Homo sapiens: one gene and its partners. The protein of the gene in region 1 interacts with the protein of each later gene in a pairwise test. Each region holds a gene or a part of one and is shown on either strand. Other genes may lie near its edges.

Region 1 (7,000 bases):
TGCCAGAAAACATTTTAAGTTTTGACTTACTTAAAGCCTTTACATTACAAATGCCTTTATGTTATGTCTAAAATAGAAGATTGGTTGCAGTTATTACCAGTGCTTTTGTTCTTTAGAGTCCATAAAACAGACCTGGAACGAGTGTTAGAAGCAAATGATGGCTCAGGAATGTTAGACGAAGATGAGGAGGATTTGCAGAGGGCTCTGGCACTAAGTCGCCAAGAAATTGACATGGAAGATGAGGAAGCAGATCTCCGCAGGGCTATTCAGCTAAGTATGCAAGGTAAAGACATTCTGATGTGTGTTGTATTCATTGCTGAAGAATTGATTCCAATTATTCTTAGATTTCATGGAAGTTAATGTACTCTTAGAGGTGTTTTGACAATTACTGCAGAAGCAATAGCTATATAGTGGGCTTTCCCTTTAGATTTCTTATAATGGAAATCACTTTTTACAACCTATATTTTATTAGGAGTAGTTATATTTTTACTCCTGGTTATTTTATTTGGTTTCAACACTGTACTAACACAATAGTAAATTGTGGTTTTAATCTTTGTGGGTATCAGTTGACCCTTATCCAAATCAGCTGTTACATAAATATGTGCCATTAGACACTATGGAAGGGCCTGGACAGGGAATATAAACTGATTTTACAAAAACCCAACATTTATTGGCTATGCAACTTAAACCGTAAGCCCACTTTGGTGGGCCCAGTTTTTTAGTGATATAAACTATCAATAGAGAAAAGCGAAAACATATCCCCTAGACAATCTAGGCAAAGAAAAATGTTAAGACATAGCTCAAAGTAGCTTAATTAAAAGTTTGAAGTGGGTTTTTTGTTTTATTTTTTTCTAACTCATATGTATTTGCTTCTACTTTCTAATGAAATTATTTATCAGTTGATTTCCTTAGATATCTAAATAAAATTGAAATTTCATTAATGGGAAGATTATTTTTATCCTGAACTTTTCTTGCCTCTATGCATGCCTCTGAGTACTCCATATGGTGTGCAATCCCATTTTTGATTAATAGAGTCCTGCTGGATTAGCAGGGACAGAAATCAGCTTTAGATTTCTTTCTTTTTTTTTTTTCTTTCTTTTTTTTTTTTTTTTTTTTTGAGTCAGAGTCTCACTGTCGCCCAGCCTGGAGTGCAGTGATCTTGGCTCACTGCAACCCCTGCCTCCGAGGTTCAAGCGATTCTCCTGCCTCAGCCTCCTGAGTAGCTGGGACTACAGGCGCCTACCACCACGCCCAGCTAATTTTTTGTACTTTTAGTAGAGATAGGGTTTTGCCCTTTTGGCCAGGCTGGTCTTGAACTCCTGACCTCAGGTGATCCACCTGCCTTGGCCTCCCAAAGTGCTGGGATTACATGTGTGAGCCACCACGCCCAGCCAGAAGAGTAGAATATTCTTAAAGAGAAAACGTTTTAAAGGCTTACTCAAATGAGTATAAACAAACATATTGTTGCTTGAATTGGTAAATACAGTGATTGGTTTTTGTTGTGTTGTGTTTTGTTTTCAGGTAGTTCCAGAAACATATCTCAAGATATGACACAGACATCAGGTACAAATCTTACTTCAGAAGAGCTTCGGAAGAGACGAGAAGCCTACTTTGAAAAGTAAAGTAGTTGGTACAAGTTAAAGTAGCATGTTTAATATTTGCTTTGGCTATTTTGTCTATTTGTAAATGGTTACTGCCTGAATCCTGTGAATATTTGAATGTATTTTTTAAAAATTTACAGCAAATAGGACGGGCACGGTGGCTTACGCCTGTGATGCTAGCAGTTTGGGAGGCCAAGGCGGGCAGATTGCCTGAGGTCAGGAGTTCGAGACCAGCCTGGGCAACACAGTGAAACCCCATCTCTACTAAAAATACAAAAGAATCAGCTGGGCATGGAAGCGTGCGCCTGTAGTCCCAGCTGCTTGGGAGGCTGAGCCAGGAGAATTGCTTGAACCCGGGACGTGGAGGTTGCAGTGAGCCGAGATCGCACCACTGCCCTCCAGACTGGGTGACAGAGTGAGACTCCGTCTCCAAAAATATATGTATATATATATAAATAAAAATAAAAATTTACGGCAAATAACATGAAACAAAAAAACCTTGCCCCAATACTGGATAAATTTTTTAAACTGAGTGAAGGAAACCTTATAAAATTTCATTTATTAAAAGAAAAATGAAATTAGGACAAGACAAGAAGAATGCCAATTGATCCTTTGGATGTACTTCTTGCTTACCTGATTAACCCTGCAAAATTCCTCTACCAATCAGTACGAAAAACAGCTTTGGAGGTATGGGAGCGCATTCCCAAATAGACGTGGTAGTTCATTTAGCTGCTCATGGCCGCTTCAGGCAGTCCTGTAAGCCTGTTAGCATCAGGGGAATGGATGCAAACCATAAATCTGGATCAACTCCTAAAACCTTACCTTGTGCCCAGCCTTGTAAGTGCTTGCTAAATAGGAATTCCACCATATGAAAATACATTCTTTTCAAGTAACTATCATTCAGACTTTTGTCCCCCACTTTTTTTTTTTAAAGAAAAATAAAAGGCTGGGCACGGTGGCTTACGTCTGTAATCCCACCATTTTAGGAGGCCAAGGCAGGTGGATCACCTGAGGTCAGGAATTCAAGACCAGCCTGACCAACATGGTGAAACCTCATCTCTACTAAAAATACAAAAATTAGCCGGGCATGGTGGTGGGTGCCTGTAATCCCAGCTACTTGGGAGGCTCAGACAGGAGAATCGCTTGAATCTGGGAGGCAGAAGTTGCAGTGAGCTGAGATAACGCCATTGCACTCCAGCCTGGGGGACAAGAGCGAGACTTCGTCTCAAAAAAAAAGAGAAAGAAAACTTCATGTTAAAGATTACAAGATAAATAATCAGACCCACTGATCCTAGGTCAGAAAACAGAGTCATAGCTCAATCTGACTTACTATTTGCTGTATTTCATCCATTCTGAGATGCACATAGTTTCACATTTCAATGTCTCTGAAATTGAGAAGCATCTTACAGTCATAATTGACAGTATATTAGCAGCACCTATAAATATTGGCTCATTTTACATTTGATGGTATAATGAAGAAAATATTTACCTTTTTTTCTGTTTTGTTTTTAAGTCACAACTCAGAAGTAGATGAAGGAAAATTCTGATCAGCTGACATCCTCTTAATGTGAGATATTTCTAGTCTTTATTCAGTATAGATTAATGGCTAATTATATGTTAAATTTCAAAGTAGTGCTTATTAGTGCTTTTTACTTTTAAGTTTCAAAATTAACTTTTTTATTATAATAAACTCCAAATTTATACAAAAGTAGAAAAACTAGCATACTCCTGTTTATGACCCAGATTCAACAAATACTAGCACACGGCCAATCTTGCTTTTTTTTTTTTTTTTTTTTGAGATGGAGTCTTGCTCTGTTGCCCAGGCTGGAGTGCAATGGCACAATTTCTGCTCACTGCAACCTCTGCCTCCTGAGTTCAAGCGATTCTCCCACTTCAGCCTCCCAAGTAGCTGGGATTACAGGTACACACCACCATGCCTGGCTAATTCTTGTATTTTTAGTAGACACGGGATTTCACCATGTCGTCCAGGCTGGCCTTAAACTCCTGACCTCAAGTGATCCACCTGCCTCGGCCTCCCAGAGTGCTGGGATTACAGGCATGAGCCACTGAGCCCGGCCCAATCTCGTTTTATAATACTCCCATCTCCCATTCTTTCCACTGTCCCACCTGCAAGTTTGGATTATTTTGTAACAAATCTCAATCATCATATTATTCTATAACCATTTTAATATGTGTCTCTAAAATATATTAGCTTTATTTTTAACATAGTTAAATGCTATTGTCATAAAATAATAATCATAATAATTAATTGTAATTCTATATCATCAATTATCTAGTTAATGTAAAAAATAAATCTAAGGCCAGGCGCGGTGGCTCACACCTGTAATCCCAGCACTTTGGGAGGCTGAGGTGGGCAGATCACCTGAGATCAGGAGTTCAAGACCAGCCTGACCAACATGGAGAAACCCCATCTCTACTAAAAATACAAAAAATTAGCCAGGCGTGGTGGCGCATGCTTGTAATCCCAGCTACTTGAGAGGCTGAGGCAGGAGAATCACTTGAACCCGGGAGGCGAGGTTGCGGTGAGCCGAGATCGTGCCATTGCACTCTAGCCTGGGCAAAAAGAGTGAAACTCCATCTCAAATAAATAAATAAATAAATAATAAAAAATAACTTAAATCTACTTAATTAGAAAAACTAACATTCTAAAAATTTTATTTTAAGAAATATCAAAATTGGCTGGGCACGGTGGCTCACGCCTCTAATCCCTGCACTTTGGAAGGCTGAGGTGGGCGGATCACCTGAGGTCAGGAGGGTCAGGAGTACAAGACCAGCCTGGCCAACATGGCGAAACCCTGTCTCCACTAAAAATACAAAAATTAGCCAGGCATGATGATGGGCACCTGTAATCCCAGCTACTCAGGAGGCTGAGACAGAAGAATCGCTTGAACCCAGGAGGTAGAGGTTGCAGTGAGCTGAGATCACCCCACTGCACTCCAGCCTGGGTGACAGAGTGAAACTCCGCCTCAAAAAAAAAAAAAAGAGAAAAGAAATATAGAAATTAAAGCATACATGGCCAGGCGTAGTGGCTCATGTCTGTAATCCCAGCACTTTGGGAGGCTGAGGCAGGCAGATCACTTGAGGCCATGAGTTCAAGACCAACCTGGCCAACATGGCGAAAGCCTGTCTCTACTAAAAATACAAAAAAATTAGTTGGGCATGGTGGTGCACACCTGTAATCACAGCTACTTTGGAGGCTGAGGCAGGAGAATCGTTTGAACCCAGAGGTGGAGGTTGCAGTGAGCCGAGATTGTGCCACTGCACTCTATCCTGGGTGACAGAGCGAGATACTGTCTCAAAAAGAAAAAAAAAAGGCTGGGCGCGGTAGTTCATGCCTGCAATCCCAGCACTTTGGGAGGCCGAGGCAGGCAGATTACGAAGTCAGGAGATGGAGACCATCCTGGCTAATACAGTGAAACCCCGTCTCTACTAAAAAATACACAAAAATTAGCTGGGTGTGGTGGCAGGCACCTGTAGTCCCAGCTACTCTGGAGGCTGAGGCAGGAGAATGGCATGAACCCGGGAGGTGGAGCTTGCAGTGAGCAGAGATCACACCACTGCACTCCAGTCTGGGCGACAGAGCGAGGCTCTGTCTCAAAAAAAAAAAAGAAAGCATACTCTCACCTCCTTCAGTGACTGATGTTAGTATTTTGGCACATTCTTTTTCTGTGACATATACACACTTACCTTGTAAGTGTTGTACTCATTTCCTATGACAGTAAATAGTCTTTGTAACAGGCTGCATGATATTTCATAAAATGAATGGATGTGGCATAATTTATATGTGAGCCTTTTGAATTCTGCTATTATAATTAATATTGCAATGAACAATTCTTATATTGCCTCTACACCTCAAATGTCTTATCATTTCTTCTAGTTTTTCTGAGGATGTCAGATTATTGGGTTAAAGGATATGAACATTTTTAAGGCCTTGGAACAGATTTCTAAATTGCTTTCCAGAATAATTCCCATGTGATACTTTCACCATGTTTATTTCAGACTTTTTTTTTTTTTTTTTTTTGAGACGAAATCTCACTCTGTCACCCAGGCTGGAGTGTAGTGGCATGATCTCGGCTCACTGCAACCTCCGCCTCCTGAGTTTAAGCGATTATTCTGCCTCAGCCTCCCAAGTAGCTGCGGTTACAGGCAAGTGCCTCCATGCCTGGCTAATTTTTGTGTCTTTTGTAGACATGGGGTTTCACCATGTTGCCCAGGCTGGTTTCGAACTCCTGAGCTCAGGCAATCTGCCTACCTCGGCCTCCCAAAGTTCTGGGATTACAGGCGTGCACCACCGCGCCCAGCCATCAGAGTCTTTTTTGTCAAAATAAAATGGTCTAAAGACATACATCATAGAGAAACTATAATACAAAATTTACAGGTATATCTAAGAAAAGAAAAGTATATTTAAAGCATAAAAATAAACTGCTCTTTTACTTAAAATTTTTTAAAAACTGGATTAAAAATATGAAACTTCCAACAAATTGAGCTTTTTTTTTTTTTTTTTTCTTTTTTGAGACGAGGTCTCGCTTTTGTCACCCAGTCTGGAGTGCAGTGGCGCGATCTCGGCTCACTGCAACCTCCACCTCCCTGGTTCAAGCAATTCCCCTGCCTCAGCCTCCCAAGTAGCTGGGATTACAGGCGCATGCCACCACGTCGGGCTAATTTTTTTGTATTTTTAGTAGAGAGGGGGTTTCACCATGTTGGCCAGACTGGTCTCGAACTCCTGATCTCAGGCAATCTGCCAGCCTGGGTCTCCCAACATGCTGGGATTACAGGCATGAGCCACTGCACTCGGCCTGAACTTTTTATAGTAGTAACGATAATTCAGTAATGTCCAATAATGACTAAGTAAGTTATAACAAGTACAATGTCAGCAATAACTAGTGCTTTTTAGTAAACAGGGTCAGGCAACCTTGTACCCTTTTAAAAATGTTCGAATATCGATATACCTCCTTCCTACTTGGTGGAGGATTGATTGAGGAGGAAAGTGTGCAGTGATGGTTACCAGCTTCAGCCTCTTGGCTTGACTTTGCAAATACTGGTGAGAATTTGGAAAGAGCTTGAGAATATCTTACATAGTCACATGTTGCTGAGAAGAGTTAAGAACTAACTTCTTGATGTTCATTTTTAACAATGGCTTGCATTCAAAACCTTGTAGAGCTCATTAGTAGGAGCTAAGAAGCTAATATTTGCCTTTCACTAAAATTCCTGATTACTTAGCCTAGGTAGTTCGTTGTCTCTCTAGGTTCTGTCTTTGGGAGCTTGGGTCTAAGGTTATCAAGCTAACTCTTTCTTCCCTCTCACCCTTCCCAAATTGACCCTGGTGCTGATTTGTTATTCATACGATTTTCTAGTTTTTCTTTTCCCTTTTTGAGTAT
Region 2 (7,034 bases), on another chromosome or scaffold:
AGAAGTTCAAGATCAGCCTGGGCAACATAGCAAGATGCTATCTCTACAAAAAAAAAATAAATAAAAATAAAAATCAGCCAGGCATGGTGGTGCATACCTATAGTCCTAGCTGCTTGGGAGACTGAAGTGTGAGGAGGATCGCTTGAGCCCAGGAGTTCAAGGCTGCAGTGAGCCATGATCATGCCACTGCACTCCAGGCTGGGTGACAGAGCAAGACCTTGTCCCTTAAAAAATTTTTTTTCAAAGAATCTAAAAGGAAAAAGGGAAGACTACTGAGTTCATGTACAGCTCAAAGAAGTGGAATAGGGAAGTTTAAAAGAAAAGGGAAAAGAAAACACACACACAAGAATAGACACTGTTGGCAACCCTACAGAGTCAGAGTTTGAAAGTGAGAGTTGGAAACTTGACCTCTGAGTTTGCTGGAGGAAGCCAGCAACATGATTTAGAAAGGATAATATAATCATAATGGCAGGAAGTGAGCACAGTCTTCTTGGCTGGAGAATCTCAGTTGCAGTGTTTGGGGCAGACTGACTGGAAATGATGCTATGTCGGGGACCATGTTTGAAAGCCTAAAATCTGAGTTGACAAGGAGATGTTCCATGGAGGCTCTGGGAAAGAGGGACTCGAAGGCAGACCCCCACACAGCGGACTAGTAAGGTCTCGCTCTGTCACCCAGGCTGGAGTGCAGTGGCACCATTTCAGCTCACTACAGCCTCAACCTCCTGGGCTCAAGCAATCTTTCCACCTCAGCCTCCTGAACAGCTGGGACCACAGGTACATGCCACCATGCCCAGGTAATTTTTGTACTTTTTGTACAGACAGGGTTTTAACATGTTGCCCACGCTGGTCTCGAACTCCTGAGCTCAAGCGGTCTGCCTGCCTCAGCTTCCCGAAGTGCTGGAGGTGTTTTATGGATTGAGTACTGTTCAGTTGTACCCTATGAAAGTGACCCACCACAATGGCCTGTTTTCCTGAGCAATTCTAGAGAGACAGCAGAAGGGGCTGGTGGCTCCCGTGAGGCTAGAAGGGCAGAACAGCAGAGGAGGAGAGGGTTGGAACAAAATTGGGCAGTGGCCTCTGTGCTTGCTGGCTCCCCAGCCCCAAGCCGCCTCTCTGTGGGAACCAGGGAACATTCATACTGCTCGAACGTGGCTCTTCCCACAGTCAGACACCACTGGCCAGCCAGGATCTCCCCTCCTGTTGAAAAATGCTCTCCCTTGCAGCTCCCACTAGGAAACCTGGAAGGCCAAACTGTTTATGACATTGTTTCCCTAAAATGTGCTCAGACACCATGTTTTATAAAGTTTCTGTCTCTTCTTTCTGTTAAGAAAGGAGAAAAAGGATCCCAGCTACTCAGGAGGCTGAGGCATGAGAATTGCTTGAACCAGGGAGGTGGAGGTTGCAGTGAGCCGAGATTGTGCCACTGCACTCCAGCCTGGGCAACAGAGCGAGACTCTGTCTCAAAAAAAAAAAAAAAAAAAAAAAAGGAGAAAAAGGAAAAACATTTCCAGCACTCTTGTCCACCTCCTCAGTTGGAAGTGTAATAAAAAGATTCTTCTGGCTGGGCATGGTGGCTCACACCTGTAATCCCAGCACTTTGGGAGGCCGAGGTGGGCAGATCACTTGAAGCCAAGAATTCAAGACCAGCCTGGCCAACATAGTGAAACCCTGTCTCTACTAAAAATATAAAAAATTAGCCAGGTGTAGTGGCATGCACCTGTAGTCCCAGCTACTCAGGAGGCTGAGACAGGAGAATTGCTTGAACCTGGGAGGTGGAGGCTGCAGTGAGCCGAGATCACACCACTGCACTCCACCCCAGATGACAGAGCCACGCTTCATCTCAAAAAAAAATAAATAAATAAAAAATAAAAGGATTCCTCTCTCTAGTGTACCCATGTCTCTCAAGACACTCTCCCAACTGCCCTGGTGCCCAAACTCGTGTTTATTCCCTTCCTATTCACTATCCTTCACCTCTCAGGTATTAGGTAAAGCCAATGTCTTGGGGAAAAGTGGCTAAAAAGAGGAAATGACAGTTTTCTTTCTAACAAAAATATGAAACCATCTAAGAAGAAAAAAATGAAGTAGACCTATCTTTTTGTTAGTGTGCAGAGTAAAAGCCATTTAAAAAAAATTATTTAAAAAAACCATGATTTTCAAAATTCATATAGCTGAGAATACTGTATTTTAAATACAGGTTAAGTATCCCTAATCCAAAAATATGAAATTCAAAATGCACCAAAATCTGGAGCTTCTTGAGCACTGACATAACACGCAAAGGGAATGCTCAACTTACTGGTTGAGCAGCCCTATAATGCAAATATTTCAAAATCCTAAAAAATCTGAAATTTAAAACACTCCTGATCATAAGCATTTCAGAGAAGGGATACTCACCCTGAATTAACACAATCCATTCAATTTAGCTATTGTTTATAAAATAAAAACTAGCCCAAGCCTTGCTGAGTGGGCATATCTTGATTGCCACCGTTATTGTTGCAGAGGTACATTGTGAAGTTGCCAGGTCTGCAGGTCAGCCCGTTGCAGGTCCTGGTTTATGGATGGTTGGAAAAGAGCTAGTCCCATTCCAATTGTCATTGTCAGCCAAGTGCATTGTCAAAATATCCCACTTTCCTGGCAAAGCCCTCATTGGTATGTTTCCACTTGGCCCAGTGCGTGGAATTGTTTTCATATACTCCCCTTGCTTTGAGAGGTCTGGGCAGAAGAAAGCAGGAGAAGAAGAGGAGTGGGGAAGAGCGGAGGGGTGCAGACAGGAAAGGGGAGAGCGAGAAGGAGCCTGACCATGTGGGTCTGCCAGGACCCTGCATGGGCCAGCTTATGCCCTGTCCCCTGGCTCCAAATGCCCAGGAAAGACTGCCTCGGGAGACGCTACATGTTGAGGTTCACATCACCAAGTGTGCTGTGTCTGAGGCTTGGACCGAGCACTGGAAAAATGACCCAGTGGCCAATTAAACTTTCCATTGGCAGACATTGGATGAAAACTTTTTTTTTAAGTGAAATCTTTCCATTTGAGTAGTTTGTTTTTTAATGAAATGAAACATGTACTGACATGCGCTCTGTGGAGCAATAGGAGAGTGATTAATTAAACTCTGTGCTGCCATTTTGGAGGGAGGCACTCAGAGCCAGAGTCAAGCATTAGGAGGCGTTTCAGGGGCTGTAACCGCACCCAGAAGGATCTGTCAGGCCCTTCTGCCTGTTTCCCCTCAGTTCCTGTGGACTCCTGGAAGGGACAGAGACAAGGGAGATTTCTGCTGGTCCAAGCTCTGTCATTGCTGAAATATGAAACCAAGGACAGTACTAAAAGATGCGGCAAGGCAAATGCTTTGGAGAGTGCCAGTTCTGCTACGTGATTACACACTCTTCCTAATCTTTCTGGGCAATATGTATGAAGAAATAAAAACAGTAAATAGCCTCGTAATCAGTTCAGGTTTTGTGGCCAGATGAGGTCAGTTCAGATCAGTTCTGTAGTCAAGTGAGTTACAAAAACTTGATGGTGTTCAGAGCTCGTTGGATGGTGGAATTGTGGAGAAGGAAATGCTGGCCTCTGTCCGCGTTTATCTAGAGCCGGAGGAGGCTGCCTTTCATTCCCGAGCATGCTCCAGTTCCTCCCTTGCTTCCAGCTCCCCGCCCCCATCCCCCATTTTCAGCCATTGGAGGAGGATGTAGGCTAATTAGCCACAGCGCTGCCTCTCACTCCTCCCATGCAACTGAGGAAGTCGCTGGTAAAGGCATGCATGGCACAGAGGCAGGGACCCTGACTCCTTCACCAAACCTCTCTCCCTAAAATAAGGGGTCGCCCTGACACGTGAGTGAGGTTATTTTACAATAATTGCATTGAAGGCCTACTTCAGTACAGCAGAAACAATATGTGAATTTTTATTACCTCAAGAAATGATAATGGCAGAGAATAAGAAAGCATCCTGAAAAGGTCTGGAGAGACATGTGACTGACAGGCTGTGGTTGACAGCCAGGAGGAGCCAGGATACACTCAGCTCCACAAGTAACAACACAACCAAGAGGACTGGCAACAGACCCCGAAGTCCGAGTGTTCCCTCTGCAGGGGGACAGGCTGTGCTCTGGCCCAGCGCCTCTGGCTGTGCTGACAAGTTTCTAGCTAACGGGTCGCCACCTCCCCTAGAAGTAAAGGAAGCTCCATGCATATGGTGTGTGCTCCTGCTGGCTGTAGCCCTGGGAAATAGGGGAAGAAATCTTGGTTTCTATATGGCTTGACATCGGGTTCTTGCTCCTGCAAATTAACCGGGTCAGATACTGGGGAGGATTCCAGATGACAGCCTCACCGGCCAGGAAGCAACCAAAGCACAGCACAGCTTGACGGGGAGCTGGCAGAAGGTGATACAATGAAAAAGGGAAGCAAAACTAGAGAATAGTGGCTGGCAGTAGTTGGGAGGAGGTCAGGACACTGGCCACCCCCTAAGCATGGTAGTTCCTGTAGTGTTAAGGCAGCCAGTGTGCAGGAGGCCGCACTCTCTGAGGAGTTAGCGATCTGTCTTCTGTTAGTGCTATGCAGCCCAGTGTTTCAACAGCTTCCCAAGAGTCAGAAAAACCTCAAATGATGGATGGCCTGGCTGAAGTCATCAGTAGAGATAGGCCCCGGACATGGTCTATCTCCCCATCAAATTCACCAAACCTCAGGGCACTGTGGGGTTGCAGGGCCAGACAGTGCCCAGCCACGCTGGCATGATGGCAGATCTCCAACAGTGGGGAACTAAGAGTTTGCCCAGGCATGAAGAAAACGAATTTATGAAGTTCATAAATGGAGTTTATAAATGCTATAAACAAGGGGCAGCATGCTTTCATTCTGTGTGGATTTTTTTGTCTGCTTTATTCATATATTGTTGTCAGTTTAATTGAAGTATAATCTACACACAATAAAATTCAACAATTTTAAGGATGCAGTTTATTGAGTTTTGACAAACATAAACAGTCACACCACCCCATACATAATATAGAACAGGGGTTGGCAGGTCTGGCTCCCAACCTGTGTTTGTTTTGTACGTTTTTAAAGGGTTGTTAAAAAGAAGAAGACAGGGATCATATGTGACCCGCAAAGCCAAAAATATTTACTGTCTGGCCTTTTACAGGAAAAGTTTGTTGACCCGTTGACCCTGACAGAACATTCCCATCCCACTTGGAGTTCCCTCTGGCCCCTTGGCAGGGATTCCTCCCCTCCCCCAGGCAGCCACTGATCTGCTTTCTATAGATGTAGTTGCGCCTTTTCTAGAATTTCGCATGAATGAAATCATACCGTATGTTGCCTGTTGTGTCTGGCTTCCTTCACTTATCATGTTTTGAGAGTCATTCTGAATTTTTCATGTCTCAGTTCTGCACTCCTTCTTTACTCCTGAGTAGCATGGCAGGGTTTGACTCCTGGGGGGATGGGAGTACTCCGCATGTTTTAGCCACATGCAGACGCAAAGAAGAAGAAAGGGGATCTGCAAGTGCGGCGGTCAGGGCCTGGATCCCCGGGGTGCCCACTCTCACTGCGCTTGTCTTTGCAGGCATGAACAACCGGGAGGTGCTGGAGCAGGTGGAGCGAGGCTACAGGATGCCCTGCCCGCAGGACTGCCCCATCTCTCTGCATGAGCTCATGATCCACTGCTGGAAAAAGGACCCTGAAGAACGCCCCACTTTTGAGTACTTGCAGAGCTTCCTGGAAGACTACTTTACCGCGACAGAGCCCCAGTACCAACCTGGTGAAAACCTGTAAGGCCCGGGTCTGCGGAGAGAGGCCTTGTCCCAGAGGCTGCCCCACCCCTCCCCATTAGCTTTCAATTCCGTAGCCAGCTGCTCCCCAGCAGCGGAACCGCCCAGGATCAGATTGCATGTGACTCTGAAGCTGACGAACTTCCATGGCCCTCATTAATGACACTTGTCCCCAAATCCGAACCTCCTCTGTGAAGCATTCGAGACAGAACCTTGTTATTTCTCAGACTTTGGAAAATGCATTGTATCGATGTTATGTAAAAGGCCAAACCTCTGTTCAGTGTAAATAGTTACTCCAGTGCCAACAATCCTAGTGCTTTCCTTTTTTAAAAATGCAAATCCTATGTGATTTTAACTCTGTCTTCACCTGATTCAACTAAAAAAAAAAAAGTATTATTTTCCAAAAGTGGCCTCTTTGTCTAAAACAATAAAATTTTTTTTCATGTTTTAACAAAAACCAATCAGGACAGGTGTTTGTTTTTGTTTTCTTTTTTATAAATATGAATATATATAATATATATGTCCCTGTACATATACAATGTGGGTGCTAATGTGGAGACTGTGGCCGGCCTGAGCCACCAAGCTGCGGGACCCAGAGGGAGGATTTTACTGCAAGTCAGCATCAAAGCACCGGTGTTATTCTGAAAACACCAGTGGCCTCATTTTTGGCTTTTGCAAAGCATGAATTTTTTCATTTGGATTGCACTTTCCTGGTTCATGACTGTACCTGTAGGTGGTTGTTACTTTGACTCTTTTCAGGAACCACCCCCCAAGCTGAATTTACAAGTTCTGTTAGCACTATTTGCTTCAACTTACTGCGATTTGTTCTCAAAACTTAAAAATAAGCAAGCAAATGGCTGATACTACCAAGAGAACTGGAAGATGGATACCACACAAACTTCTTGTATAAAAATATGAATGCTGAAATGTTTCAGACATTTTTAATTTAATAAACCTGTAACCACATTTAAGTGATCTAAAACCCATAGCATTGTAGTCATGGCAACCCGCTAAACTTTCTCATGCAACTAAAATTTCTGGGGGAAATGAGGGTGGGGGTTGTACATTTCCCATTGTAAAATAAGTGTTTTAAATGTCCTGTACTGCTAACGAATGACTTTCTATATGTCCAGGAGTTCTCCAGTGGAATAACTATGCACTACTTTACATTTCATGGGGATGCACAAAAACAAAAAAGTATTACATTTTTAGTTGCTGTTTGTACCAACCTTAAATTACATATGTTTAACAACAACAAATCAAAAATCCTATTTCTATTGAGTTTTTAATACTGA
Region 3 (7,617 bases), on another chromosome or scaffold:
ACCCATTAACTCTTCATTTAACATTAGGTATATCTCCTAATGCTATCCCTCCCCACTCCCCCCACCCCACAACAGTCCCCAGAGTGTGATGTTCCCCTTCCTGTGTCCATGTGTTCTCATTGTTCAATTCCCACCTATGAGTGAGAACATGTGGTGTTTGGTTTTTTGTCCTTGCAATAGTTTGCTGAGAATGATGGTTTCCAGCTTCATCCATGTCCCTACAAAGGACATCAACTCATTGGTTTTTATGGCTGCATAGTATTCCATGGTGTATATGTGCCACATTTTCTTAATCCAGTCTAACATTGTTGGACAGTTGGGTTGGTTCCAAGTCTTTGCTATTGTGAATAGTGCTGCAATAAACATACGTGTGCATGTGTCTTTATAGCAGCATGATTTATAATCCTTTGGGTATATATCCAGTAATGGGATGGCTGGGTCAAATGGTATTTCTACTCTAGATCCCTGAGGAATCGCCACACTGACTTCCACAATGGTTGAACTAGTTAACAGTCCCACCAACAGTGTAAAAGTGTTCCTATTTCTCCACATCCTCTCCAGCACCTGTTGTTTCCTGACTTTTGGATGATCGCCATTCTAACTGGTGTGAGATGGTATCTCATTGTGGTTTTGATTTGCATTTCTGTGATGGCCAGTGATGATGAGCATTTTTTCATCTGTCTTTTGGCTGCATAAATGTCTTCTTTTGAGACGTGTCTGTTCATATCCTTTGCCCACTTTTTGATGGGGTTGTTTGTCTTTTTTCTTGTAAATTTGTTTGAGTTCATTGTAGATTCTGGATATTAGCCCTTTGTCAGATGAGTAGATTGCAAAAATTTTCTCCCATTCTGTAGGTTGCCTGTTCACTCTGATGGTAGTTTTCTTTTGCTGTGCAGAAACTCTTTAGTTTAATGAGATCCCATTTGTCAATTTTGTCTTTTGTTGCCATTGCTTTTGGTGTTTTAGACATGAAGTCCTTGCCCATGCCTATGTCCTGAATGGTATTGCCTAGTTTTTCTTCTAGGGTTTTTATGGTTTTAGGTCTAACATTTAAGTCTTTAATCCATCTTGAATTAATTTTTGTATAAGGTGCAAGGAAGGGATCCAGTTTCAGCTTTCTACATATGGCTAGCCAGTTTTCCCAGCACCATTTATCAAATAGGGAATCCTTTCCCCATTGCTTGTTTTTCTCAGGTTTGTCAAAGATCAGATAGTTGTAGATATGCGGTATTATTTCTGAGGGCTCTGTTCTGTTCCATTGGTCTATATGTCTGTTTTGGTACCAGTACCATGCTGTTTTGGTTACTGTAGCCTTGTAGTATAGTTTGAAGTCAGGTAGCGTGATACCTCCAGTGTTGTTCTTTTGGCTTAGGATTGACTTGGCAATCTCCTTAAGCTGATAGGCAACTTCAGCAAAGTCTCAGGATACAAAATCAATGTACAAAAATCACAAGCATTTTTATACACCAATAACAGACAAACAGAGAGCCAAATCCTGAGTGAACTCCCATTCACAATTGCTTCAAAGAGAATAAAATACCTAGGAATCCAACTTACAAGGGACGTGAAGGACCTCTTCAAGGAGAACTACAAACCACTGCTCAATGAAATAAAAGAGGATACAAACAAATGGAAGAACATTCCATGCTCATGGGTAGGAAGAATATATATCGTGAAAATGTCCATATTGCCCAAGGTAATTTATAGATTCAATGCCATCCCCATCAAGCTACCAATGACTTTCTTCACAGAATTGGAAAAAACTACTTTAAGTTCATATTTTGAGTTTTTAAAGGAACCTTCAAACTGTTCTCTAGAGTGGTTGTACTAATTTGTATTCACACCAACAGTGTACAAGTGTTCCCTTTTCTCCAAATCCTCACCAGCATTTGTTATTGCTTCTCTTTTGGGTATAAGCCATTTTAACTGGAGTAAGATGACATCTCATTGTAGTTTTGATTTGCATTTCTCTGATGATCACTGATATTTAGCACCTTTTCATATGCCTTTTTGCCATTTGTATGTCTTCTTTTGAGAAATGTCTATTGAGATCCCCTGCCAGTTTTTAAATCAGATCATTATATTTTTCCCTATAGAGTTATTCGAGCTCCTTATATATTCTGGTTATTAATCCCTTGTCAGATTGGTAGTTTGCAAATATTTTCTCCTGCTCTGTAGGTTGGCTCTTCACTTTGTTGATTGTTTCCTTGCCATGCAGGAGCTTCTTAACTTGATGTGATCCCATTTGTCACTGTTTGTTTTGGTTGCCTGTGCTTGTGGGGTATTACTCAATAAATCCTTGCCCAGTCAAATGTGCTAGAGAGGTTTCCCAATGTTTTGTTTTTGTTGTTTCATAGTTTGAGGTCTTAGATTTAAATAGTACAATCGCATGGAGAACCGTTTGTAGGTTCCTCAAAAAATTCAAAATAGAGCTACCATATGATCCAGCAATCCCACTCCTGAGTATATACCCAAAAGAAAGGAAATCAGTATATTCAAGAGATATCTGCACTCCCATGTTTACTGCAGCACTATTTACAATAGACAAAATTTGGAAGCAATATAAATGTCCATCAACAGATGAATGGATAAAGAAACTGTGGTACATATACACAATAGAGTGCTACCATCTATAAAGAAGAATGAGATTCTGTCGTTTGCAACAACATGGATGGAACTGAAGGTCATTATGTTAAGTCAAATAAGCCAGACACAGAAAAAAAATTTTGCATATTCTCACTTACTTGTGGGAGCTGAAAATGAAAATAATTGAACTCATGGAGATAGAGAGTAGAAATATGGTTACCAGAGGCTGGGAAGGGTAGTGAGGTGCTGGGGGGAAGTAGGGAGGATTAATGGGTACAAAAATAGAAAGAATGAATAAGACATAGTATTTCTTAGTACAACAGGGTGACTATAGTAAAAATAATAATTTAATTGTGCATTTTAAAATAATGAAGACAGTATGATTGTATTGTTTGTAACACAAAGGATAATTGCTTGAGGCTATGGATACCCCATTTACCCTGATGTGATCTTTATATATTGCAAGCCTGTATCAAAATATCTCTGTAACTCATAAATATATACACCTACTATTTTTCCATAAAAATTACAAATAAAAAATCCTAAAACTCAGCCCTTACAAGATCTGCAGGGGAGACAGAATTTGTAGGTTGATCTCCCAAATTCATCAGGCTTGGAAAGGACCTTAGACTTTCTGCATAACTACATTAGCAAAACCAAACCAATTCTATGGAAATGCCAATATTAATAGAACAAATATTAATACTCCTCAGAGGGAGATAGCAGAGTCTTTACACTATATGATCCCCATTGTCCAATATGCAATAAAAAAATTCAACATGCAAAGAAACAAGAAAATATCACCTATTGTCATAAAATCAGTAGAAACAGACCCAAAAATGTCCAGTTGTTAAACTTCATAGAAAAAGACTAAATCAATTATTATGTATTCAAAGAACAAACAGAAAATAGGTTCAAAGAATGAAAGGAAAATATGATCTTTATAAATGTACAGATAGTGAATTTCAGCAGAGAAATGGAAACTATAAAAATAACCACATGGAAATTTTAGAGCTTAAAAAATTATAGTAACTGAAATTAATAACACACTAGATGGGCTCACATTAGTTTGGAGATGGCTAGCATCAAATGAGCTTGAAGACAGATCAAAAGTAATCATCCAATCTGAAAAAAATGGAACAAAACATGTATCTCTAAACTTTTTAAAGGTGTTGTATTGACTTCTTTTGTATGAGTTTTTTAACATAAGAAAGTAATAACTCTCTTGGTACTTCAAGCTAGACTCACGTTTTCGATTCTCCAGGACACCACCTTTGGGGTTCCCCACTGTAGCTAAAAGGGACCTGGCTATGGTAACATAAATGGGTAATCACCTTGGCAGAAGTGATCTTAACAAAAATTTCACTTACTTCAACTAAAGATTCAGTACCATACAAGCACTGAGAAAACCTCACTCATTCTCTAATGTTCAGCTGAGCAATCACATACTGTTACACATTTGTCTTCTAAAAGTCATACATACATAGCACAGTGCTATGATTAGATACCTGGACTATGGTTATGGAGTGCCTGGATTTAACTTTTGACTCCAGTACTTACTAACTGGGTGACTGTGGGCAGACTACTTAGTTTGTTCATTTGTAATATGGGGATAATAATATTATACACCTAACACATTTGGAGAATTATTGGAGAGGATATATGTAAAGCACTTACAACAGTGCCTGGCACATATGTGTTCATTGTTATCACGTTTCTCCCAGGTTTTTTAAGAATAGAGATTTTCAGGGGTAGAAGAATATTAAAAGAGTGAATCACCTTTAAAACACTGGTGTAAAAAATACCTCATGTCAAAAAATGTTTAAAATGTGCTTTAGATGAAACCTGTTACCTTTCCCCTGCTGATCAACAGAGACATTCCTTTTTGAAAGCTCAGCTTTAGAGATACTGCCTTCTTCTTGAAATAGCTGTCTGCAACAGATAAACATTACTCTGTGCTACTGGGTGTGTTCAATGTGTAAATAGATTGTGGGAATATGAGAGGCTGGTTTTTCAAGTTCCTGCTCCAAGTAGTTCACAAGGGTCAAGTAGTCCAGCATTCTACAGTTTGTGTGTTTGAGAGAAAAATAAGCCCATAAAAACATTCTAACCTTCAGATTAAGGTAAGACTAATGCGTTTAGGGATCTCCAGTGTGATATCTGATTTCTTAATTTCTGTATTTTGTGTGTGGTAGGGGAGTAGTGGGATTTGCTGGTCAGGAAGAAAACAGCTCCTTCCACCATTTGATATTGTATTTTACAGTAAAAAAGGGAGAAATATGTACAGAAGGGACATTTTGGCCATTGGTAGCTATGAGTTTAATGGATTGAGGAGAGAAATATAAGTATCTTTTTGTTATTAACACTTGATTCTATCTATGAAGTGAAGCATTGCACTAGGTTCTACTGAAGAGTGAGTGCCTCCAGGAACAAATATGCATTCTAGTGACATAAAAAAATCAAATTCACAGCAGAAGTGTTGCATCATTTTGCTATAAATCTCTCACACCTCTCTATATAAACCTCTCACATCTCTATATAACATAGATTGTCCTTTTGCTCTGAATTTCTTTCATTTATTAGAAAATTTAGATGTTTCATTTGGAATTATTTAATTGTTTTTACATTCAGTTCCATTTTTGATATGGACAAATATCCAGTATGGATATAAATTCAGTAGAAGGATTAATAAAGTCTGAAAAACCTGGAATAATTTCAACATGAATATGATACTGTAACAGCTTACAGAAATGCGATATTAACTGTGAACATTAATATACTCTGAAAAGATGCATCAGGGTTTAAAAAATTTCTCCTTAATGTAGATTGTTTTAATTACCAATACTGTCTTCCTCATTTAAATGAAAAACGTAATTTTACAACTATTAATATATAACTTCTCTTTGCTCCAAGTATATGTGTATGCCTGGAGAAAAGCATATGCCTGGAGAAAACAGGAGTTATATATTTATAGCATTCAAAATAGTATAAAATATTGTTTACATGTAATAATGCATTTAGAAGTACTACTTCAGTAGTAGCCTCCTTAAAAAGTATTTTAAACACAGGAATTAAGTATATAATTTTTTCATTTTGTAATAAGTTGTTTATATGTTATTTGGACAACAGCTTACACACAAAAGTGTTACAATTCATACCCTAGGTCTTAAATGCATGAAGCCATTTGTTTGGACTCTAGTGAAATCCTTAAATTGGTCCTTGCATCCCTCAGTATATATATGTACATACCCACATATACATGCATATTTACATGTGGGCAACTAATAACTGAGAAAATGTCTTACTGCTCTTTTAGTTGTTGAATCATGCTTTTTCTATGTATTTATGATTTCCTGAAATTCTTTGCTATTTTAAGTTTGGGTATTAGCTATGTTATCCTTCTATTTATTCAGATTTGTTAAAGTCTTCTGATAGGTTTAGTGAATAAAATTATTGAGCTTCTACCTCTTTTCTTTTGGAGGCCCATTTAGTATTTTTGTTGAAATTACTTCCTTATTATTATTTAGTATGTTAAGGGAAGGAAAAGGAAATGTAGCTTTAATATGTAAAATGAGCAGTTCGTTTTACTTAAGCTCTATTATATGATGATGTATCTTATGACTATTTTGCCATCCTGCGTAAGCACTTAGCTAATCATCTTTAATACATTCTACTTAAAATCTACTTGTAAATATGCTTTTGTACATTCATATCTTACTTGTCTGTGGTCTCTCATCCTCTTTCTCTCTCACCCCTCTATATACATTCACACATTTTCCATGATTTCACAAAACTTCTCTCCAACCTCGTTCCATTCCTGGTTATCTCTTTCTGTGGGGAGTATCATCATTTCCTTTGACCTCTGTTTCTCTACATCTTCCATCTTGCTTAGCCCATGGACTTTTGATTTTACTGAAGACAGCAAAAAAGCAGATGGTGCTTCTGTTACTTGCAGAGTTAGCAACCGCTGTGGTTACCTTAGGTTCTGAAAGATTATCTAAAATAGGGAGGAGCTCCTAGAGGAACAAAATATAATAAACATGTAGTGTACTGGGATAAAAAATTCACTTGATCTGGTCTCTCTCTCCTTTTAACAAAAACATTTCTCTAAGAAGTGATTAATAAAACATACCCTACTGCCTCACTTTCTCTTTTAAAATCTTTCTTTCAAATTCCCCTATGACATAAAATCAATCTTCATCACTTTATTGACACTGTACTTCCAAGGGTCACCTGTAGTGCTGCTAGGAAATTCAAGTACATTCATTTATTTATGTATTCATTCATCCATTCAATAAATATTTATTTAGTGACAGCTATGCATCAGGCATTGCTGAGCACTGAAGTTACAGTAGGGAACACTTAAGTCTGCCTTTATATATCTCCAGTCTAGTTAGGAAGGGTGTTAACTCACCCAAATAATTCATTACAAGTGTGATAAGGGCTATAAGGAATACTTTTCCAAATTCTCATTTTATTCATCCCCTTGGCTCTATGTGACACACATGATCAATTCCTACTTCTTAAATTTTCTCTTTCCTTCTTGTCCATGACTCTATACTATTTATTCAACTGCTTTTCTACCACTTCCCTTCTTGTCTATTTTTCCTTTTCTCTTCCTTAAGTTTGGGTTTCCCTCAAAGGTTTAGCATTTATTTAGCCTATAACCTATTACGTTTTGCCTTTCTCTATAACTTCTTATCAACCCTTAGTTTTAAATATCACCTCTAAGTGGATACCTCCAAGACTTCCATTTCCACATCTTATCTTTTCCATCTGCTATACATTTTCCCACTTGTATGTCCAAGGGTCACTCGACATTCATCATGATTGTAGCCAAACTCACAGCTTTTATGTCAAACCACTTCCCCTTTCATTTCATTTGTTTCTGTGAATGGCATTAATGATCTCTTGGTTTCTCACATTTGAAATCTTGGAGTCAATTTTGCTTCTAACTTTTCCTTTGCTCTCAATATCCAAACCACTACCAAGTCCATTCATTTCTTTAATTATAATGTATCTAGAAGCCAT
Region 4 (6,933 bases), on another chromosome or scaffold:
GTGACAGGCACCTGTAATCTCAGCTACTTGGGAGACTGAGGCAGGAGAATCACTTGAACCCGGGAGGTGGAGGTTGGCGTGAGCTGAGATCGCGCCATTGCACTCCAGCCTGGGCAACAAAAGTGAAAGTCCATCTCAAAAACAAACAAAAGAAACAGGCAGCTTCTCAGAACACATCTGTCCTCCATGTCCACGGGCGCATCCCACCCCTGGCCACCACCGTGTGGCTTTTCTCCGTGGAAGCAGAGGCCATGCATCACTCCCACAGGCAGCCTCTCTCTGACGAGCCTCAGTAGTAAATTCATGCAAGAAACAAAGAAAACTGCTCCTGTCCTTCTTCAGTGCTGTGCGGAGGAGCGAGAGGGAAAAGCCAACCATAACGCCATTGCATGTGCTGCTGAAATGCTTTGTGCAAACGTTGAGACTGGAGGTGAGGGCGGAACTTTGTAATATAAGAGCAGTAAGATAAATGTTGATTTTAAAATCCAAGTACTTGGACTTTGCTAGAATATTCCATAATCTTTTCCTGGTCTTGATTATTAAACAGTTTTCAAGAAAGTTCTATTTGGTGAGTCACCTGATGATCTAAACACACTTTTCTTTCTTGTTTGATTCCAGCTGGGTCACCTGCCAACAGAACCAAGCCCACTTGGGTTTTGGAGGCTTTGGGGGCTGGCTGGTTTCCCTGGGCATGATTGGTGACCTCAGGTCAGATTCCTGGACTTGCTGGGGATCCTGTGCCCAGGAAGGCACCAGCCCAGGAGGCTCTGAGCCTCAGCCAGGGATGCAGCAGGTTGGTAGCACCTTGGCAGCCATCCCGAGGACACAGGTAAGAAGCCAACAGAGAAGCAAGAATGTGTCTTATTAAAGCTGCTCCACTCCACAAGCATCTCTGGAATGTTCTCTGGGCCCCGGATCTGCGCGAGGCATTCTGGGTGAGACAGAGACGAAGCCGCTTGAGCTCGGAAGCCGGTGCTCAAAGAGCGTGACGTGGCCTCACCCCATTCCTCTGCAGGGCTCAGCTGGCACCTGCACCCCCGAGGTAGCTGGGGGCCCCTGAGCTTGGCCAGGCCCATCTGGCAGCCTTGTCCCTGCTTGTCCACCCCCTCTGGGTTGCGTTCAGCTTCCTGAGCTCCCCCTCTTCACCCGTTCCTAACACAAGAGCTTGTGCACCCCAGGATGGTGGGGATGGGGTTCTGGCTCGTGGGCAATCTGGGTGTCAGGCTTACGGCCCCAGTGGCTCCGGGTCATGGCCTTGGCCCCACAATGGCTGTGCTGCCCCATCAGTGGTCTCTGCAGCTGGGGAAATGCCTGGTCCTTCTGGAGATACAGGAGTGTTGGATTCCCCGATTATGGCCACGTCCTGTTCCTCTGGTACCATCCACCCACCAAGTCTTGCCACGGTTTCCCTCTGGGCCTCAAATCCAGCTGTCCATCCCAACATCTGTCTCAAGTGGCCTCTCCTGTACCCAGCTGCCCAGGAAGCGATCCAAAGGCTCCGTCCCAGGCTGCTGAGGTGACTGAGGACCTTGAGAGGGTCCTACACTCTCAGACCAGGGTGAGGCCGAGGCCCGAGAGGCAAGTCCCTGCCCAGGCCCTGGCTGGCCAGGACGCGCTGGCCACAGCTTCCCAGAGTGGACGCTGCCCTGCACCCGCCAACACTTCCCCGTCAGCTTCCCGGTCCCACACCGCTCCTGCTGGCAACGAGGTCGCAGCATATTAAATTCTCGACGCAACTACTGTGTGAAAAAGCCATGCAAACCAGCGAGGAGCCTGCTTACCACAGGGGCCCTCAGAGGGCTCTGCTGCTCCTCGGTCAAAACCTCCTTTAGGCAGTGACTCTGGCAGCTGCCGGCTGGGCTGTGTCCTGAGAACTGAGGCTGGGAGGGGCCAGGTGGGAGGGACCTCATCCTCCAGGCGCCCACTGGCCCAGCCCTGAGTGTTCACGACAGGTGCAGGGCTCCCTCCCCGGCCCCCTTCTGGCCAGGGCAGCCACAGCTCAGCCCCGAGGCCTTGAGTGGCCTTTTCAGAGAAAACCAGGACCTGGGGGCTCCTCCCGGGAGCCTCTGACCCCCAGACCCATAAACAGGCTTCTCTGTGGGGTCCCTCAACCACTACTTTCCTCTCACCTGAGGGGACCAGCCAGACAGCTCAGGCACCCGAGTCTTTAGGGAATGAGCTCACTGCCCTCTCCACCCACAGCAGGACACCTGGCAGCCAAAGCCCCACACCTGCCCCTATCCCAGGACTGGGACGAGGAAGCCCCAGGGTGAGGGGTGGCCCTGATCTGAGCCCTAACCTGGTGGGGGTGGCAGGCAGCCCCAGGTGTGTGGATGACCTGAGCCAGGCACAGACAGCTGCCAGGTGGGGAGGAGCAGAGGTCATGGGGATGTAGGGAAAGGGTTTGGGGGTTCCTCCCACAGGGCCACTGTGTGAGACAATTTGTCACTTTCTTACAAAACTAAACACACTCTGACCACAGCATCCAGCAATCTCACTCCTTAGAGTTTACCAAAATGAGTTGAGAACTTATGTCTACAGACACCTGCACATGAATATTTGTAGTAGCTTTATTCATAATTGCCCAAACCTGGGAGCAACCAAGATGTCTTTCCATAGGTGAATGGATAAATAAACCATGGTACATCCAGACAATGGAATACCATTCAGTGTTAAAAAATAAGTGAGCTGGCCATGCAAGGTGGCTCACGTCTGTAATCCCAGCACTGTGGGAGGCAGAGGCAGGCGGATCACTTGAGCCCAAGTGTTTGATACCAGTGTGGGCAACATGGTGAGGCCCTGTCTCACAAAAAATACAAAACTTATCGGGGTGTGCACCAGCACCTGTAGTCCCAGCTATTTGGGAGGCTGAGGTGAGAAAATCACAGGAGCCCAGGAGGTTGAGGCTGTAGTAGCTGTGATTTCACCAGTGCATTCCAGCCTGGGTGACAGAGCAAGACTCTGTCTCAAAAAAAAAAAAAAAAAAAAAAAGAAGTGAACTATCAAACCACAAAAGACATGGAAGAACCAAAGTGCGTATTACTAAAAAAGAAGTTGAAAAGGCTACATAATGTATGAGTCCAGCTCTGTGACATTTTGGAAAAGGCAAAATTAAGGAGACAGTCAAAAGATTCCTGGTTGCCAGGGGCTGGGAGAGGGAGTGATGAAAATGCAGAACACAGATGAATCGGGGCGGAGAAACCCGTCTGTACAATATTAGAGTGGTGGGTCTGCATGATTATACATGTGTCCAAACCTGCAGAATGCACAGCACCGGAGGAAAGCATAATGGAAACTGCAGAGGGCGATGATGATAATAACAACGTGTAACAAATGGCTGGGACGGGAGGACTGGGGAAGGCTGTGCACCTGCAGGAGCAGGGGAGCGGTGGGAGAGCTCCATGCTTTTGGCTCAATTTTGCTATGAACCTAAAACTGCTGTAAAAAATAGAGTCTACTGAAAAAACAAGTGTTAATTTATAAGCGTCTTGTTTAAAGAGCGAAGAGATGAACCACAAAGGGGAAAATGTGTTTAAACAATAACTAATTGACAATTGGCTGGTTCTTAAAATTCAGAGAACTTTAAGACAGAGACAGCAAAGCAGGGATCACGTTTTACAAACGCGGCAGGACCAGGACGTCGTGCCCACGACGGGCCAGCAACCACAGGCTGGATGCTCACCCTGTGCCAGCCTGCAGACGGAGAGCACCCACCCCAATCTCCAGCCCCCAGAGGAGCTGCCTCTCCAGGGCCTTCCTGCAGGTGCCCAGGGGCTGCACATGGCCCTCCTTGGAGGGAGCTGGTGACTCAGCACTTTCATTTCCTGGAAACTGAGGCTCATGGGAGATATGCAGATGAGCCCAGAGCACCATGGGAAATGGCCCTTTATATACCCAAATGGGCTCTGCCTCCTCCTTTCCCTGGGTGCCCACATGAACAGAGACACCAGGATGGTGAGATCTCCCGAGGAGGGGTCTCTGAGGAGGGGTCTCGGAGACACGGCCTGGTGCTGGGTGAGGGGTTGGGAGGCTGAAGCGGGGCCAGGATTCCTCAGGTTCCCTCAGTTTCCCTCAAATTTCCCTCAGTTTCCCTCAGGTTCCCTAAGGTTCTCCAAGTTCCCTCAAATTTCCCTCAGTTTCCCTCAGGTTCCCTCAGTTTCCCTCAAGTTTCCCTCAGTTTCCCTCAGGTTCCCTCAGTTTCCCTCAGGTTCCCTCAGTTTCCCTCAAGTTTCCCTCAGTTTCCCTCAGGTTCCCTCAGTTTCCCTCAAGTTTCCCTCAGGTTCCCCCAGTTTCCCTCAAGTTTCCCTCAGCTTCCCTCAGGTTCCCCCAGTTTCCCTCAGGTTCCCTCAGTTTCCCTCAAGTTTCCCTCAGTTTCCCCCAGTTTCCCTCAAATTTCCCTCAGTTTCCCTCAGGTTCCCTCAGTTTCCCCCAGCTTCCCTCAGGTTCCCTCAGTTTCCCTCAAGTTCCCCTCAGTTTCCCCCAGTTTCCCTCAGGTTCCCCCAGTTTCCCTCAAGTTCCCCTCAGGTTCCCCCAGTTTCCCTCAAGTTTCCCTCGGGTTCCCCCAGTTTCCCTCAGGTTCCCCCAGTTTCCCTCAGTTTCCCTCAAGTTTCCCTCAGGTTCCCCCAGTTTCCCTCAGGTTCCCTCAGTTTCCCTCAAGTTTCCCTCAGGTTCCCCCAGTTTCCCTCAGGTTCCCTCAGGTTCCCCCAGTTTCCCCCAGGTTCCCCCAGTTTCCCCCAGTTTCCCTCAAGTTTCCCTCAGGTTCCCCCAGTTTCCCTCAGGTTCCCTCAGTTTCCCTCAAGTTTCCCTCAGGTTCCCCCAGTTTCCCTCAGGTTCCCTCAGTTTCCCTCAGGTTCCCCCAGTTTCCCCCAGGTTCCCCCAGTTTCCCCCAGTTTCCCTCAAGTTTCCCTCAGGTTCCCCCAGTTTCCCTCAGGTTCCCTCAGGTTCCCCCAGTTTCCCCCAGTTTCCCTCAGGTTCCCCCAGTTTCCCTCAGGTTCCCTCAGTTTCCCTCAGGTTCCCCCAGTTTCCCTCAGTTTCCCCCAGTTTCCCTCAAGTTTCCCTCAGGTTCCCCCAGTTTCCCTCAGGTTCCCTCAGTTTCCCTCAGGTTCCCCCAGTTTCCCTCAGGTTCCCTCAAGTTTCCCTCAGGTTCCCCCAGTTTCCCTCAGGTTCCCTCAGGTTCCCTCAGTTTCCCTCAGGTTCCCCCAGTTTCCCTCAGTTTCCCCCAGTTTCCCTCAAGTTTCCCTCAGGTTCCCCCAGTTTCCCTCAGGTTCCCCCAGTTTCCCTCAGGTTCCCTCAGTTTCCCTCAGGTTCCCCCAGTTTCCCTCAGGTTCCCTCGGGTTCCCTCAAGTTTCCCTCAGGTTCCCCCAGTTTCCCTCAGGTTCCCTCAGTTTCCCTCAAGTTTCCCTCAGGTTCCCCCAGTTTCCCTCAGGTTCCCCCAGTTTCCCTCAAGTTTCCCTCAGGTTCCCCCAGTTTCCCTCAGGTTCCCCCAGTTTCCCTCAGGTTCCCTCAGTTTCCCCCAGTTTCCCTCAGGTTCCCCCAGTTTCCCTCAGGTTCCCTCAGTTTCCCCCAGTTTCCCTCAAGTTTCCCTCAGGTTCCCCCAGTTTCCCTCAGGTTCCCTCAGTTTCCCTCAGGTTCCCCCAGTTTCCCTCAGGTTCCCTCAGTTTTCCCCAGTTTCCCTCAGGTTCCCTCAGTTTCCCTCAGGTTCCCTCAGTTTCCCCCAGTTTCCCTCAGGTTCCCCCAGTTTCCCTCAGTTTCCCTCAGGTTTCCTCAAGTTGCCTCAGTTTCCTTCAGGTTCCCTCAATTTCCATCAGGTCCCCTCAGGCTCTGCCAGTTTCCCTCAGGTTCCCCCAGTTTCCCTCAGGTTCCCTCAGTTTCCCCCAGTTTCCCTCAGGTTCCCCCAGTTTCCCCCAGTTTCCCTCAAGTTTCCCTCAGGTTCCCCCAGTTTCCCTCAGTTTCCCCCAGTTTCCCTCAGGTTCCCCCAGTTTCCCTCAGTTTCCCTTAGGTTTCCTCAAGTTGCCTCAGTTTCCTTCAGGTTCCCTCAATTTCCATCAGGTCCCCTCAGGCTCTGCCAGTTTCCCTCAGGTTCCCCCAGTTTCCCTCAGGTTCCCTCAGTTTCCCCCAGTTTCCCTCAGGTTCCCTCAGTTTCCCCCAGTTTCTCTCAGGTTCCCCCAGTTTCCCTCAGTTTCCCCCAGTTTCCCTCAGGTTCCCCCAGTTTCCCTCAGGTTCCCTCAGGTTCCCCCAGTTTCCTTCAGGTTCCCTCAATTTCCATCAGGTCCCCTCAGGCTCTGCCAGTTTCCCTCATGTTCCCCCAGGTTCTGTCAGGTGAAGCTGATGGGCTGTTGGGGTCCCTGAGGTGTAGGGGGTGGCTGATGAGCCCGGGGAGGTCGGATGGAGGAACTGAAGGCCTCCCAGCCCCGGTGCTGTTCAAACTGAGCAGGGTCCCCACTAAAGGGCCAGTCTGAACCCCAACATCCCTGCCCCTGCTGGTCCCCACAGTTTGCCCCCACCCTGCCTGCTGGGGGTGCCTAACCTCCCTTCCTTTGCCTTTCCAGCTCTCCTGAGACCACAGCAACTGCAGAAGCTGAAGACATTTCCAGAAGTTCAAGCTTCCACCCTCTGCAGGTCCCCACTGAGCTGGGACCCAGGTCATCCACCCCACCCCAAATCCCTGGATAGGAAACCCCTTTCTCCTCCTGCTCCTTGTCCCCTTCATCCCTGCCGCCCAGCATCCTACTGGCCTCAGCACCTGTGGCCAGACCGTCCAAGATCCTCTGAAGGCCCAGCTCTTGCTGTCCACCCCGGCAGTAGGCAGGCAGCCTGGCCATGTGCCCTCCGGTCAGCATGCGGTATGAGGAAGAGGGCATGTCCTACCTCTACGCCTCCTGGATGTATCAGCTTCAACATGGAGATCAGCTAAGCATTTGCTTCACCTGCTTC

The links.
Region 2: the proteins of ATXN3 (region 1) and FYN interact in binary tests that used the Homo sapiens proteins (3 or more experiments, as listed by UniProt).
Region 3: the proteins of ATXN3 (region 1) and SYTL5 interact in binary tests that used the Homo sapiens proteins (3 or more experiments, as listed by UniProt).
Region 4: the proteins of ATXN3 (region 1) and TEX19 interact in binary tests that used the Homo sapiens proteins (3 or more experiments, as listed by UniProt).

Annotation. Positions count from the first base shown.
Region 1 is NC_000014.9:92,075,583-92,082,582, reverse strand, and holds part of ATXN3 (ataxin-3 reference isoform), read left to right. Parts: intron 1-116; coding exon 117-283; intron 284-1,521; coding exon 1,522-1,618; exon of another isoform or gene 1,619-1,630; intron 1,631-3,114; exon of another isoform or gene 3,115-3,168; intron 3,169-7,000. UniProt on the Homo sapiens protein: Deubiquitinating enzyme involved in protein homeostasis maintenance, transcription, cytoskeleton regulation, myogenesis and degradation of misfolded chaperone substrates.
Region 2 is NC_000006.12:111,660,448-111,667,481, reverse strand, and holds part of FYN (tyrosine-protein kinase Fyn), read left to right. Parts: intron 1-5,534; coding exon 5,535-5,743; 3' UTR 5,744-7,034. UniProt on the Homo sapiens protein: Non-receptor tyrosine-protein kinase that plays a role in many biological processes including regulation of cell growth and survival, cell adhesion, integrin-mediated signaling, cytoskeletal remodeling, cell motility, immune response and axon guidance.
Region 3 is NC_000023.11:38,001,960-38,009,576, forward strand, and holds the start of SYTL5 (synaptotagmin-like protein 5), read left to right. Parts: upstream 1-4,593; 5' UTR 4,594-4,709; intron 4,710-7,617. UniProt on the Homo sapiens protein: May act as Rab effector protein and play a role in vesicle trafficking. Binds phospholipids.
Region 4 is NC_000017.11:82,355,332-82,362,264, forward strand, and holds the start of TEX19 (testis-expressed protein 19), read left to right. Parts: upstream 1-3,915; 5' UTR 3,916-3,954; intron 3,955-6,548; 5' UTR 6,549-6,819; coding exon 6,820-6,933.